Linked DNA regions of Homo sapiens: region 1 is linked to region 2. The links come from fine-mapping of genetic effects on gene expression. A gene starts in region 2. The other region holds a variant in brackets. All regions are shown on one strand. Distances are between the middles of the regions.

Region 1 (2,735 bases), 58 kb before region 2:
CTTCCATACCCAAGGGCCCAGAAACTACTGAAAGAATCTCTTTCAAGTTAGCCTTCGTTGGAATAAATTCCTTGAAAAAGAGGTAGTTCATCAGCTAGGACCCAACTCTTATATATATATATACACACACACACACACACACACACACACACACACACAGGCAATTGTGTTCTTGGAAGTGCTGGTGGTGGTTTCTTCTATATTTTTGGTTACTTTTAGCTATATATTATTGCCTGTCAGTATACCTTCCAATTTATAAATGAAACTACTCTTTGGGTGATATTGTGCCCCTTACCCCACAAGCACTTCTTTCTACCTGCTCTATTAATACAGGTTCTTTCAGGGTCTCTCATCCTAGGCGGTGTTTTTATTCCTACCTCACAGTAGGGCTTTGAAATCTTACTGCCCAACTAGAACATTTTCCCCCTCCACACTGATTTCATCCCAATAATTAGACAAGGATTGGTTCCTCAGGTTGCTCTTGCTGGTTAAGGACAAGTCCTGCTTCCAGGCTCTGAAAGACAAGTTTATTTTTTAGTATGTCCAGATCAGCTCAAGTTTAGTGGTAAGACCAGGCCTGAGCTGCTACAGCCCATACTCTTGAAACCCATCCTCTTGAAACTCTTGACACCACACTGGAAACCTTGTGAAAAGCCTCTGCTTTTCATGACCTTTCCTCCTTGTTTCTGACCTACTTGAGGAAAGGAGCTGATACAGTTTGGCTGTGTCCCCACCCAAATATCATCTTGAATTGCAGCTCCCATAATCCCACGTGTCAGGGGAGGGACCTGGTAGGAGGTTAATGAATCATGGGGGTGAGTTTTTCCAGTGCTGTTCACATGATAGTGAATTAGTGTCACAGCATCCAATGGTTTTATAAAGGGCAGTTCTCCCACACATTTCTCCTTGCCTACTGCCATGTAAGACGTGACTTTGCTCCTCCTTCACCTTTCGCCATGATTGTGAGGCCTCCCCAGCCATGTGGAACTGTGAGTCCATTAAACCTCTTTTTCATTATAAATTACCCAGTGTCAGGTATTTCTTCATAGCAGTATGAAAATGGACTAATATAGGGGCTGTATCTTGCCCATCCTTAGGTACTATTACTTCTATTACATTACT[A/G]CTAATCTGGTGGGATCCTCTTCCAGCAGTTACTGCCCTCTGCAGAGTAACCCCATTCCAAGAAGCCCCACCCTCTCTCCAAGACTTTATTCTTGTCTGAATGTTTTCTGAGCCCGACGGTCCTTATTTATGTTTCAAATAGCTTGGGAGGAAAAACTCCAATACAGACAACTTGAATTGGCAACCAAACCCTAATGCTACTTACTGTCAAGTCATATCCGTGAATTTCGTAGCACTAATGCATTCATTCAGTCAGTCAAATAGAATTGCCTGTTACAGCTCAGGTTGATATGGGAGTCGGGCAATGACAGGCAAAAGAAACAGCCCCTTGTGACACAAAGCTTATACTTCCACTGGCTTCTTACAACTCCTCTCTGATCTACCCTTCCCAGAGTCCATATTTCCCCTCTCGATTCTCTGTGACCACCCTTTCATTTAGGAAGACAGCTCAAATTTCAGCCTGACTCTGTGCACTCTCTTCTGAGCTTTGCTTCTCTGGAAGCTTAGGACTCTCACGATCCACTGTGCCCCACTAGCTAGCACACCTAGCAGTTCACCCTTTACCAGTTCTTCTTCTTCTTCTCCTTCTTCTTCTCCTTATTCTCCTTATTCTCCTACTTCCTCCCTCCTCTTCTCCTCCTCCTTCTCCCCCTCATTCTCCTCCTCCTCCTTTCTTCCTTCTCCCCCTCCTTCTCCTCCTTCTCCTCCTCCTTCTCCTTCTTCCTCCTCCCTCTTCTCCTCCTTCTCCGCCTCTTCTCCCCCTACTTCTCCTTCCTCCTTCCTCCTCTTCTCCTCCTCCTTCTCCTGCTCCTCCTCCTTCTCCTTCCTCCTCCATCCTCTTCTCCTCCTTCTTCTCCTTTCTTCTTTCTTCTTCTTTGAGACAAGGTCTCACTCTGTTGCCCCGGCTGGAGTGCATTGGCACCATTTCAGCTCACTGCAACCTCTGCCTCCTGGGTTCAAGCGATTCTCACACCTCTGCCTCTCAAGTAGCTGGAACTACAGACCATGCCCAGATAATTTTTGTATTTTTAGTACAGATGGGATTTCACCATGTTGGCCAGGCTGGTCTCAAACCCCTGGGGCTCAGCCTCCCAAAGCGCTGGGACTACAGGCATGAGCCACCACACCTGGCCCCTTTACCATTTCTTGATGGAACTAATGGATTCCCACCCCACAGCCTTTATGAATGGACTGAGGCCATTGAATTCAGGATTCTTACTTTGGTGTGTAGCTGTGGCTGCCTCCCTAGGACCAGGGCACAGAAATTTCACAGTAACCAATGAGAGAGACCAGGGGCCAGCTCCAAGCCAGAGTCATTTCATTCAGGGCAGATGTGATCAGAAGACCAGCCAAGGGGCTGTCCCTCTAGCAGGATGTGAAAACAAGGAGAGTCCTGGTCAACACAATTTTGCTTGGAAAGCAAAGTGGGTGCTGAAATACCTACACCTGAGAGCGATTGTCTTAATGTGGCAGGAATGTAAAACAAATTGGACATAATTTGGAGGGAGGGTAATGAGGTACCACGAACAAGAAAACATAAAGAATCACTAGGCTCGGCAAGGTGTCAACCCTGTCCTAATTAGGCACAGTTGTTATAAGAAGTACATAATTAA
Region 2 (2,500 bases):
GCGTGAACCCGGGAGGCGGAGCTTGCAGTGAGCCGAGATCGCGCCACTGCACTCCAGCCTGGGCGACAGAGCGAGACTCCGTCTCAAAAAAAAAAAAAAAAAAAAGAAAAACGATCGAGATTTGCATTTTTACACTTTCTGCCTGATTCTTCCCTATGTCACTTAGCCGAAGCCAGGCCCTACGAGGGTAAGGGTGGGGAAAATTCCCTTGGAGGAATCTCTACTTATTGGAAAAAGAAATAAGCAAAAAGCAAGATGAGCCTGGCAGAAAGAGATATTTTGCTTGTGGCCTTTACATTTATGACTAGCAAGATAATGAAGGAAGGTAATTCTGAAAGCTTTATGTCAGTTTTAACGGTCCCTCAAGCACTGAGAAAGATAATCGTCAATGGATGGTGTCCATAAGGATTTTTTCTCCTTCTCCCCTGACAGCCATTGACAGGATCATTTTGTATTTGCAACTGCTGTCATTGAAGCGTGCAGAAAAGGCCCTGTAAGGCCAGAAGGATGAGGGCTACTTCCCTGCAAGGATCTCTATTGTCATCACTATGGCAATAATAGTTACTATAATTTTCATTCTGCTTTTCTATAGAGTGTCGACGTTGTGGAGCTTAAGGCTATGGGATTTGGGTCACATAAAATCACACTAGCATAAAATCGTGCTTTGTTATCTTGAAAGAGTATTTTTTTTAACTGCAAAGAGAGCCTGTGCAACAAGATTAAAATAATTGCCAATGCAGGTCACTTGACTAATATAATTATTTATGGGATGCTAATAGCTTTTCAGACGCTTTCAGATACAGTGTCAATTTGACAGCAGTTTTTTCTCTCTCTGTTTGGATTGTAAGACCACTGCCAGTTTTTCTCCCCAAGGACAAGGCTTATCATTGGGGGGTGGGGGTGGGGAATGTAAATTAATTGGAAATCAGCTCTCAGGCGTCGTCTGGTAGTTTCTCTTTATTATCTGCAATTAAATCATAAGGACAGGAACCATGCCTTCTATTTCACTTATATGCACCCTCATCTCCTAGCGTCGCGCTTTGCATAAATTTCAGTGGTACTAGCTTTCCTACAGACTGCTTTAGAGACATTAGACACTTCTAAAGTACGACTCTGCGGAAAGAGCCCTTTGGGAATGAAGCGGCAACGGTGGCGCACCTGCGATCCTATCGTGGGATGACAAAGCTCTAAGAGGGGTCTCAGGGTAGGGAGGAAACAGCTGGAGACAAAGAAAGGGGGTGTAGCGAAAAGAGGTGAAAACAGGAAAGATAAGCGAACAGAACAGACCAAAGAGAGAAAAATAACAGAAGAGACTGAGAAAAAGAAAAGTCAAGTGGAGCGCCCACTGCCCCGCCTGCAGAAGGCGAGTACGCGCGGAGGAGACTACAGGCCCCAGAATCCTCCGCGGTTCCCCTTGCCTGGGGTCAGTCTCCTAGGCAACCCCGCTAAACAAGATGGCGACCTCCGAGAGGGCTCTCCTGAGGACCAGAGCTGCCTCTCTCCTGAGAGGCTTGGGCAGATCCCGAACTGGAGCCCGATCGTTACAGTTTCGCGCAGAAAAAGAGCGTCAGCCTTGCTGGTCTTTTCCCATGGGGCAGAAGACGAAAGGCAGCTCTAACATAGCCTCCTCCTACCTGCTCCAGCAGCTCATGCACCGCTATCAGGAGCTGGACTCGGACGGAGATGAGGACCAGGGCGAGGGCGAGGCGGGATCCGAGGAGTCCTCAGAGTCCGAAATGCTGAATTTGGAGGTGTGTCTTCCCCCCCACCCCGTACTCCCTGGCTCCCTCGTCCAGCCCTGTTACTTCAGCGGCAGCTCCCCGATGCACCCCCACCAGCCCGAAGCTTCCCACACCTTCTCAGGCTCTCTCGCCTCCAGGAACGCCTCTTCCCCCTCTTTTCTTCCCCTGTCTTTTACCCCGTTTTCTCACCCCCTGCCTGAAATAGCTCTAAATAGTTCCTTTCTTTTTTCATTAACACATTTGATTTCTTATGAGTCGAGTTAACACAGCGTCACTTTGTAAGAGTGTCTAGATAATTGTCTGGGAATTATGGCTTTAGCTTTTTCAAAATTATACTTTGACAGTATTGTGAATAGGCAGAGTTCATCTCTGACATTGCCAGCACCTGTTGCCCATGGCTATGACATACTTCCACACTCTTCCTCAGTTCTAGTCCCGTCAGCCTCCCTCCAGGAAAAAAAAAAAAAAAAAAATCCGCTTTTGAAAGTGCTTCTTCAAAGACTAAGTGACTTAAAAGTTGAATACATTACTTCTGTCGGGGGCATATGCCTTATACAAGCAACATGCACACACACCAGAAAAGAGCCTTATAATGTTCGAACAGCCAGCTCATTGTGGGAATATTTTAGGATGTGGGGAATGTTCCCATCATCCCACCCATATTGACTGGGATGGCGGCTTCGCGTTTCACATGACTGCCATTCCCTCCTTTCTACAATATCTCTTCTGACCACCACACAATTCCTCTTCTTTCTTAT

Evidence for each region.
Region 1: its variant is fine-mapped to the expression of LRGUK in breast (GTEx, PIP 0.90).

Annotation. Positions count from the first base shown.
Region 1 is chr7:134,067,517-134,070,251 of GRCh38, forward strand. It overlaps a transcript of EXOC4 not described here. Among named protein-coding and RNA genes, the nearest start is that of LRGUK, 58 kb to the right of the region's middle. The variant A/G (reference allele first, on the strand shown) is at 1,123.
Region 2 is chr7:134,125,914-134,128,413 of GRCh38, forward strand. It overlaps LRGUK (leucine rich repeats and guanylate kinase domain containing), which reads left to right and starts at 1,427. Exons shown (of 20, transcript NM_144648.3): 1 at 1,427-1,751. The coding sequence starts at 1,455. RefSeq lists enhancers at 1,280-1,329, 1,440-1,709.